Regions from separate parts of the Homo sapiens genome. Here region 1 is reported to be linked to region 2. Evidence: microRNA targets listed by miRTarBase, many of them from high-throughput screens and not tested one by one. Region 2 holds a microRNA gene; the other region holds the end of a gene's coding sequence.
What was found. The annotated mature microRNA hsa-miR-3614-3p reads UAGCCUUCAGAUCUUGGUGUUUU and lies in region 2 at 3,012-3,034, opposite strand. An mRNA with a match to its seed (bases 2 to 7 or 8) in the 3' UTR can be bound and repressed. Matches are read on the target gene's strand: a 7mer-m8 pairs with bases 2 to 8, a 7mer-A1 pairs with bases 2 to 7 and ends in A, and an 8mer does both.

Region 1: the mRNA of ATP9A is a reported target of hsa-miR-3614-3p. Seed matches in the 3' UTR shown: 7mer-m8 at 4,136-4,142.

Annotation. Positions count from the first base shown.
Region 1 is chr20:51,596,712-51,602,085 of GRCh38, forward strand. It overlaps ATP9A (ATPase phospholipid transporting 9A (putative)), which reads right to left. Exons shown (of 28, transcript NM_006045.3): 28 at 1-4,636. The coding sequence ends at 4,500. Among named protein-coding and RNA genes, the nearest start is that of NFATC2, 57 kb to the left of the region's middle.
Region 2 is chr17:56,888,270-56,893,606 of GRCh38, forward strand. MIR3614 (microRNA 3614) reads right to left here and starts at 3,086; the gene lies at 3,001-3,086. It overlaps TRIM25 (tripartite motif containing 25), which reads right to left. Exons shown (of 9, transcript NM_005082.5): 9 at 1-3,960. The coding sequence ends at 3,431.

The DNA of each region.
Region 1 (5,374 bases), not on the chromosome of region 2:
TAAAAAGTCCTCATTTTGATACCAGAATTCATGTTTCTGTACAAATTAAAATAATCCCCCAAGGCAGAACGTACACAAGCTTTATTGGGCAACAGCAACGAGCCACGCTGGCAAACAATGAAAGTAGAGTCGCTCAGAAACACGAAAGATCATATGTGTGTCATCACAGCATCGAGAATTTAAATCATCTGGAAGTTCCTGCTAAATTAAAGCATACTGTGCCAGAGCTCCCCTCTAATCAAAAAACGCTGTCCTGGTGAAAATTTGCAATGAGGATTACAGAGAGAGAGATCAACCAATGAGGAAATCACAGACTCTTACATGAGTTTACAGTTAACCCCACTGCAACAAAATAATAAATTAGCCATAATTTGTTTTTTTTGCAAATACCATGCCCCCCACCTGACCCCACAAACACAACAGTCACTGACATGGCCCAGCTATATTAACAGACTGCGCCTCAAACCATGCTGTGGCGGAGAAGACAGATTCACGGGTAATGCCGCTTTGGCCTGAGAAGATGCTTCGGAGCTCCAGGTGGAGGAGCTGCTCACGCTGCAGGATGCTTTGCAGGTTCATTCAAAACCAAATTTTTTTCCAAGAAGAACTGGACATAATTCATGGGAATATTTTAAGTATATATAAGTGGCAAAAAAGCTGTACATTAAAAGAAGGGGGAGAAATAAAATGTGTTGTATTTACAAAGCTCTTTGTATATTTTTTTAAATGAAAACAAAGCTGGGAGTGATAGAATTTTAATGCAATGAAAACCAAATAATTCTTCAAAAAACTTTAGATGACATCATTCTCTCGCTCTTTCACACACACACACACCCCCCACACACTTCAAACATACAGAAAAGGTTAAAGATAAAAATAGCTGATAGGTGTTTAAGTAGGATGGAGCAGAAGAATGTACATGTCCCATTTGCAATTTTGGCAAAGGTTTAAAATGCTGCCCTAAAGGCACGCACGCATGCCCAGCCTACCCCAGTAAAAACAAGACAAAGTATAAAAAGAAAAGTCTGGCGGGGGGTGGGGGAGGCATTAGCATATCAATTTCCAATGAGCACAAAATTCAAAATACATTAAAAAGTAGCATGGCTTACATTTTCAGCAGAGAAGAAACTGAGGAAATGTTCATAAAGAGACAATGATTTTTAAGATTTACTGTCACAAAAAAAAAAGGGTTTCACTTCAGGGGAGTGGAACTGGGATGGGAATTTTACAATGCTAGTTCCAGCACGTGGTCTAATGGCCCCAGGGGCTGGAAAAGGGAGGTCTGCTCCAACTTTAAGATGCGCCCTTGGGATGCCTTCCAAGCAGCTGGAGTTAGTGCCACCTGTCTCACCTGGCACCACAGGCAACACACATGTGCACACGCATGCTTTCAAAATGAGGATCAAAACTGTCCCACATAAGAAATTACTCAAGATGGAAAAACTAGTCTGGTGATTTTCTTAGAGAAAAAAAAAGAGAGACAAAAAGGAAGGGGTGGGGGGAGGGGAAGAAACCAAATAGATCCTGCTTCCCCCTGTCACACAACCATCATCAAAAGACATATGAACAATAATAAAATAGTAATAGAAGTTCTTACTCTGGCAGAAATAGCTAGTGTTGTCAGAGGGCGCAGGGAGCTGTGAGTTTTGCTTTCAGGAAAAGTGTTCAAACAGTGCTGACTGTGTACCTCAAGGCCCTCTGACCTCAAATTAAATTGGCTGTCAAAGACTTACGGCCCATGGAGCTCCCAGGTGACAGTGTCAATGGCGCTTTATGTAAGTTCTTTCCAGATTGATGAACCAAGAAAAAGGTCAACTGAATCCTTATGCTTAAGGTTTACAAACTCAGGAGAGTTTCTTGTATAGTAACTCTAGTTTCTTGTTTGCTTATTTCTTTGTCTTCCCCACCACAACTAAGATGACCTCCGAGAAGTACCCAGGCGCCCCTGGGGTTCTCTGCTGGGCTTACAGTCTGATTGTGCAGGTAAAGATCGTGTCCTCTCACCGGACTGCATCCTCCTGCCTTTGCGTCTCCAGTGTCTGAGAAGCACGGTGTGTGCATTCCTAGGTGTTCAGGGACCGTCCAGTGAATGGCGTCAGCCAGCTGCCCACTGATGGGATGGGCCAACGACGTGGCAGTTTGCACTTGAGTGTCGGTACTTCTCACCCTTGACCGCCTCCGCCCCAGTGCGGCTGAGACAACAGAGTAAAAAGGTTTGTGGAGAACACTGACGAGTACCTTCCACTTCCAACTATGGCTTCTTCAGCCCCTCCTGGGAGCATTCTCCCTTGAAGATGTCAATCAGTATCTTAAGCGTTGGCTTTAAAAGTCAACTTGTGCACCTCAATCAAAATTGAGAATTAAGGAAAAGGCCAGGGAGACCATCTTCATTCTGCTTCTGCTGGAAACCTCTAAAACTTTCTGACGAGGCTCCCACACGCCCTGCCTGCAGGAGCCAGCATCCCGAATCTCCGAGCAAAGCCAGGTACAGGGTTTGCAAAGTCTAAACAGGACTATCTTAAGACTTCCCAGCGTTACAGAGCCAGGTTCAGCATCTGCAAAGTCTAAATGGGACTATCTTAAGACTTGCCAGTGTTACAGACTGATTTCCAAGAAAACGGAGGCTTAAAAACTTCCAGCACAAATTTCTCCTCCACCTTTGAAAACACAGAAACTCACTCAATGAATACGTCAGATTTGCTCAATCTTTCTGAAATTTTTGGACAAAGATCCTATCCTTAACTATTCACTCAATACATCTTTTCTGCCGACCTTTTCCCTCTGGCAGAAATGGCTGAATCAGATAGAGAAAAGTACTGCAAAACTGCAGAATCATAAGACAAAATAGATGTGGTGTCAACAGCCAATTAACCAGTACCTGCAACGTAAAGTCATTCTAGAACATTTTAAAAGGACAACACAAAATACAAAAGCTTATCAAGAGTGCTCCAAAGGCAAGGGACTATCTGATCCTCGTGTCTCCAGCTCTCCAAGAGCAGGAGTTAGTAGGCATCAGAAACCAGGCTGTGATGTACATCTCTGAAGCACACAGAAGTAGCGCCAGGCAGAGGGTTTGAAGGATATGTATTCATCAAGAAGTAAACGCAAATCCAAGATCTCAACCACACTTGGCTCTTAAAGATCCACCAACTTAACCCTTATGGCATGCATATGTGGCTTCTGCAAGAAGCAACTTGAAAACCCAAGAATGCCTTGCTCTACCACGTCCCGCGACTGCAAACTCCCTTCCTCTGAAACAAGCAGCCACAGCTTTATAAGAAACATGCCGGCATGTAGTCCATCCTGGGAGGGGAGAAATCTTCACCACTGGCTGCCTTTCAGCAAGTTCCCCTTGAAATCTGCCGGCAGTGGAACAGATCCCAGATCCCAACGCTGTAGCTTGGGCGTCCTCCCACCAGGGGTTCCTTGTTCTGAAAGCTGCCACCAGTGTTGTTCCGAAAGATGCCTCTGCCTTTGTGGGGTCATCTTCCATTATGCCTCCTAACAGGAAACAGGCTTCTATGGAAGAGAAGAGTCCCAGCCCCCTGACCTTTCCGCTTTGGTCTTGGAGGATCTGAGTCACATCTGCCATGTTGCCTAAAGAATTAGTTGAGTCTCTTATCACACTGTCGACACATTTAGGGGCCATTCAGTGGCACGTTTCCTGCTAAAACAACTCTGCTGAAAATGTCTGAGGTCCTTCTCAAACAGCCACTGGCTTTGTGATTGTTACCAGGTCCCAATAAAGCGGGATCACACCTCTGAAATTCTTTTACGAGGTGGCAGGTGAAGTTAACTCACACACTATGGATGCTGAATCAGATCAAGGATAACAGATTGGACTTAGGACACTCTCTCTCCCTCTCCTCTCATTTACTGGTTACGATCCCAGGAATCCAGTGTAACCTGGATAAGCAGGGCTGGCTGGAGACGATACTGAGCATTTCCGAATGGAGATTATTGTGTGGATAACTTTTTACCAAATGTCACTGTCTTTTCCTCCCAAACCGACACCAAGAGCTTTCTATTTTTCTGACACCTCTTTGTAAGAGCAAGAAAGACATAAAGAGTACATACACATTAGGACTCTTTAAAAACACACACACACACACACACACACACACACACACACACAAGCCTTCTACAACCTTCAGCTACACAGAAACTTTTATCATGTGACAACAAAATTCAAGTCATAAGGAAGCTCGCACAGTGACCCATATAAATCTCCCAGCTGAGCCACCAGCTTTAACATATTCATATTCACCTAAACATGAAGAACGAGGGGTTCAGACAGGCCCAGATGGGTCTCTTTCAGGACCCTCCCTCCCGTTGATGCAGCGTTAGGACTCCGTTTAGGCGCAGAGCCACTTCCCATTAAAACTGCATGTGTTAGCAATTACTGCAAAATCCACAGGTGGCGGTTAATATAAATGGAACTTGAGCTCTGTCCATCAGGGAAGCGCCAAGACCAGGGCCCCCTCCAGCGAACGCACGGCCTATGATGTGAGCTTTGAGTAGCTGGGGGGAGAGAACCGTCTTCGCAGGTACTTGAGGACATAGAGGGGGAGGCAGCTGACCAGAGTGATGACGGAGACTTTCCACAAGAATGACAAGGTGGCGATGAAGTACACATCTGCAAGGAAAGGGGAAGACGGCAGTGAGCAGGCAGGAATATTCCGGAAGGTGCATGGGGTCCAGAAACAGGCGTCACAACTATCAAAGGGAAAGTCATCTCCCGTCACAAACCCACAGCCTCCTGGCATTGGCCCTCTTTCTCCATGGACTGTAAGGGAAGGTACCATGGCTAAGAGCACACAGCGCCGCAGCTTGATTTTCCTCGCTCTCTCTTCTGTAGCTTCCTGACAGTGAAATGCTACTTTTAACACCCAGGAGAAGAAAACTATGGGGGCCACCAGATGCAGTGGCTCATGCCTTAATCCCAGCACTCTGGGAGGCCAAGGCGGGCAGAAGAATTGAACCCAGGAGTTTGAGACCAGCTTGGGCAACACAGCAAAACCCTGTCTCTACAAAAAATACAAAAACTAGCCAGGCATGGTGGTACATGCCTATAGTCCCAGCTGTTCAGGAGGCTGAGGTGGGAGGATCATCTGAGCCCGGGGAGCTTGAGACTGCAGTGAGCCAACATTGCACCACCGCACTCCACCCTGGGCAACAGAATAAGACACTGTCTCAAAAAAAAGAGAAAAAAAGAAGGAAAGAAAATTACAGGGGAAGAAAACTCAGAGATGCTTTTGATTTGGTGTTGTCTAACAGTTGGAGAGTCTTTCTAAGTCCCGGCCACTGGCGAGCAGAAAATGACATTCAAATGCACCCTCTGCTTCCAGTGATGGTCGCAGAAAGCCACAGGATG
Region 2 (5,337 bases):
GCATAAGCTCAGGTGTGATCCCATGGCCTCACAAATAACAAAGACACTCCTATTACCCTGGAAATGTCAAGGACTGAAAGTCTCCCTCCCAGGAAGCAGGGACAAAGGCCAGTTCAATTCTTTAGACAACCTCCAATCCACACCTCCTGGAACTCCTACCCCAATTGAAACAAGGATAAAATCCACTGAACATGGAGGGCCCATTGCTGGCCTGAACTATTTTTGTTTCTTTTTTTTTTTTAAAGCTTTTTATTATAGACATTTTCAAACATATACAACAGTAAAATGAATAATATAATGAACCCTCACACCTCCATCCCTAGTAACTGATTATCCGTGTGTGGCTTACTCTTTGATCGATACTCTCCTGCTTTCCCCTAGCCCCCACAGTTAGACTGTCCCGCAGCAAAGCCCAGACAGACATCCTATCGGTCTGAGAATTCCTTATCAAAAGCTTCCCGAAGAGGAACTCTATATAGGGCAGGACTAAGTGTGCTGGCTATAGGTCTGCAGAAATCTCAACCCTTGGGAGCCCTTGGGTGGGGCCTGGGCAGGTCCCTGGGCAGTAGCCGTCTGTAGTGGGCGGCTCATCTGCTGACAACAGTATGACGAACAAATAGCATTTTGTACCCGCACTACAATGCAGGAGAACGCCAAACACCGCTTTATTGCATTCAAACCTTCTAAGGCACGTCAGCCAGCCCTGGCCTTGTCTACAGCCATGATTATCTCCTTAAAGAGTTAACTCTAAAAAAATATTAAGCTCAAGAAATAACAGCTCAAATACTCCTAACTAATTAAAATCAATAGTGAGAGGCAGAATACGGTAAAAGATAACATATTAGTATTATTGATCACAGATCAATTTCAGAGTACTTAAAACAGGAATAATCAGCTACCACATCTTGAAAAATACAAAGACTTGATCCTAACCTTTTATTTATCATGCCACACGGACTGAGACAGTCCCCAGTACCTGGGTCTAGGAGAGTTATTTTATGTTTGTGTTTCTGGGAATTTCCGATACTTCCCAGTGTATCAGAGTGTTCCCCTCACACATGCTAGCAGGCATCTCCCCACTAATGGAATAGCAAGAGTGGTGAACAGAGCGATCCTCTACTTTCTCATCATATTCTGCAAAATGAGAAGTCAGATGGATACAAAGGTTCCTCCAACTCTAGGACTCCAGGGTTGTGTGGCGGCCCTGCAAGGCTAGGTTATGTAAGGTCTCACCATTGCAAACAGAATGGTTCAAGACAGCAAGGATGCACTCCTCAATTTACAACTCCAAAGCACCTTGCACAGAGCTTGGCTTTGGTTACCTACTTGACTCTCTTTTAAACAGAGGGTCTTATGCTTCCCTATCCTGAGCTGCACATTTGCCAGGGAAGTGGCCTCACTGTTGCCCTCATTTCTGCAGAAGAGAGCCAGAGCAGGAGCCATGGATTTATCTCTGGCATTCTACTCCTCCAAGCCCAGCTGTTTCCCAAGTATTAATTGGTTTCAGACAAGGCTTTCGTTTCAGAAAATCAATGAAGATGCTTTTGATCATCTTCAAAAGCAGAGAAGAATCACCAAAGAACTTTTCTTCCAAGTAGTAAAGGAATAAAACTTCTAAGGACCACATATCACCTATTGCAGGGATGTCTTTCCTACAAAGATTATTGCTCTCCCGAGGAACTGAAAATCCTTGTTAGGAGATGACACCGATCAGGTATGTACCTGCATGTCAGGTGTGTAGCTGTCAGGAATATCAAGTGTTCTGAGCCTGCCTAGAGTGCCCTAGAGTTCCAGCACGAGGCCTGAGATGCATTACATTCTCAAATATCCATATGAAAAGGTCTGGGGTCTCTAGTTCCCCAATGGTGACTTCTTTTCATATTATAGGAAGCCTGACAGGAGCTCTCCTCTAAGCAAAGCCCAGAGTTGGACTCATTTCACTATAAGAGGCTAAATTCCTCATACTCACATCCTGACAACATTAGGCTATAAGGAGCTTGGGGAAAATCCAGCCATCCATTCACTCCCGCCCCTTAGTGGACTGGGTTATTTTCACCACACAGAAACACTGCAGGGAAAATAGCCACTTGTGTGACCCTCTTTAGCTCTTTCCCTCCCTCCCTGATCAATGTGAGCTTATATAATTGGCTTAAATGAGGAAGTCAGTAGAAGGGGCTAGGGCCAGCCCCAGGCTCTGACTCACGCAAGGGCCAGTGCTGGGTCTGCAGCCTGTGGCCAGGGATGAACAGGAATGTTCCTGTTCCCCATGAGGTTTGCTAAAAGACCCCTTTGGTGGTAGGTTGACACCCCAGCAAGTGGCCTAGCATGGTCCGAGGCAGCCGCATAGCCTGTCTGCATGATAGCAGGCTTCAGGGATCCAGCTTAGCTGGAGGCTTGACTGTGCTAGCCTCGGTGGTACCTGCACTGTCATTCCATATGTCACAATCCAGGGAAGAGAGGCTATCACCGAGAAGAGTTGTCAGTAAGAAGGCAGGACACTCTAACACGAGCAAACCCACCAGGCTTCTGTTGATCCAGGGCAGCATCCCCCTCGCCTGGCAGAGTTCCTTGCCCCACAGCCAAGGCTATGGGAAGCAAGGCCTCCAGCAAAGCTCATGGCTGCCACCAAAGCATCTCTGCCAAGATGCTTCTTATGATACTTAGGAAGGATTTCCACCCAAACTGGATCAGGGTCACCATGACCCTGAATCACAAATCCAACACAGGCTGATTCCAATCATGGTTTGAAGCTTTAGCTGAAAAGTTTGCTGTTTGAAAACCATCAATGTGGGGGCGATGGGTGTGCAGGGTAGGAAGGGAACGCACTATTTTCCAGTGGAGGAAGAGGGTATGCCTCTTTAGGAAACTGTTCTGGGTAGAGACTGCTGTGGGTGTTTCCTCAAGCACAGATAATAACCAGGAGATCAAGCCCCAACATGCGGGTAATGGAGTTTATGTAACATTGAAACTCAATGACTTTGGAACTTTAAAAACATCTATAGTAAGAATTCAAAACACCAAGATCTGAAGGCTACCCCAGAGAGCAAAGGGGCAGCCTTCAGATCCAAGTGGCCCAAGACAGAACCTACAGTAGCTATGGATTTTCTCTAAGAGGAATCGGGCACTCATGACTTCACTTCCCAGAGCTCTGCCCAGCTGCCCAGCAGCCTGGAGATTTCCAGAACAATGGGGAGTAGGTCACCCTGCCCTGATAGGCACCAGGGGGTGGAAACGCCTCCTCGCCCACAACACAATCACTCTCACCCCTTTCCTGGCTAAATCCCACCTCCCACCCTCCCGCCAGCTCCCCTCCCATGCTCCCAATCCTTGGGACCTCTTGGGGAATTATCCAAGGAGAGTTCTGCCTGCTGTATTTTCACTAGGGTCTTGGGACTTCTGCAGGCAGTCAGCCCAAGTGCCTACAGCCTGCCTACTTGGGGGAGCAGATGGAGAGTGTGGCACCAGCAGAAAATACCCAGAAAGCCGGGTACAAAGCCTCAGTAAAGTCCACCCTGAACTTATACATCAGGTGGACCTTGTCGGCAACAGCGAAGAAGATGACAAAGCCGTGGTCACAGTTGAGAAGCACGCCCACCCGCGTGGCCTTGGTGGAGGGCAGGGTTTTCTCCACGTTATTGTGCCAGGCAGAGATCTTGGTGTTGAACCACTCCACGCACCAGGAGGCGCTGTTGCGGCCGAGCCTGCTTTCTGGGCCCTGCCGGTTCATGCTTCCGTAGCAGATGCCTACCCCACAGAAGTTGTTCTTCTGCAGCTCCACCTCCCAGTAGTGGATCCCCTTCTTGTAGCAGTGCAGGCCCAGCACCTGAGAGCAGTATGTGAACCTCTGGGGATGCGGCCGGTAGTTCTGAGGCATCTCAGCCACAGAAGCTACTGTATAGCACTCTGACAGAGCCACTTTGTTGTGGGCGGTGTTGTAGTCCAGGATGACTTTAATGTAATCTGAGAAAACATCACCCCAAGGAATTAATTACAAGGGGCCCAAAGTGCTCTTTTAGACCTTTGCCAAAGTGGTACTATTTATTCACTAGTTTTATCCATCCATGCACCCATCTACCCATTGGTCCATCCATCCACTCATCTATCCATCTGTCTGTCTATTCATCCATCTATCTGTCTATCCATGTATCCATCAATCCATCCATGTATCCATCCATCCATCTATCCATCTACCCATGTATCCATATACCCATCTATCTACCTATCTATCCATTCTTCCATTCATCCATCTATCCACTTATCTATCCATCCTTCTGCCTTTCCATTTATCCATTCATTCATTCATTAATCTATCCACTTATCTATCCATCTGTCCATTTATCCATCCACCCATCTATCCACCCATCCATTATTCATCAGCTCATCTATCCATCCATTCATCCATCCATTCTGTCCAGCCAGCCAGCCATCTATCATCTATCAGTCATCCGTATGTCTGTCCATTCATCCATCCAAAACCATTTACCAGGCACCTGACTGACACCAGATTCTGGCACAAGATGCACAACCATGAACCAGAGAGACAAGGTGCCGGGCCTCATGGAGTTCACACTCCAACAAGCAAGGCAAGTCCATCAGTAACAACACCATGAGACTCACACTCTGCCAAAAGGGTAAGCACACACTGTAGGGACACAGAGACAAGGCAACTGATGCTACAGTTGGGGAACATTTCACTGGCAGGCTGGAATTGGAGCCAAGTAACAGAAGATGAGAACTAGACAGAGGAGAACAGAGAGAGAAAAGCTGTTCCAGACAGAGGGAACAGTGAGAGTGAAGCCACGGAGTGCCAAGGGGATTCGCATGTGCTGGGATCGGGGAAGCTGGGTGGCTGGGAACACAGATGCAGCAGGAGAAGGGAAACATGTTGGGGCTAGAAAGGGAAGGGCTTAGGAGGCTAGACTTTAACTGGTGGGCAGCAGGGAGCCAAGCGAGGCACTCATTTGCTAGGTGGCTCAGGGCATGACACTTTTCACTGGAGCCCGAGTTTCCCCCAAGGCAAAATGAATAAGCTGGGGGTGGAAAAGGCCCTAAGTTGATAGAATTTTACTTTCCCTGTTTATGCGGCTGCCACAGAGTGCACAGCAGCTCCTGAAAGACGTGGCTCAGCACCGCCGCTAGCAGCTTGGGCAAGAGTTAGCTGCAGCCCAGGGCTGGTCTGGGCCTCTCTTGGGGGGCAGGGACAGCGGAGGGCTACAAGAAGGCCAGCCCTGAAAAAGCAAGGGACCCACAGATCCCCACCAAGCCTGCTGCAGCTGCTTATGATAAAGGAAGGGCTATATTTTTCAGTGATTGGCTTTGGCCTCCACATGGAAGTGG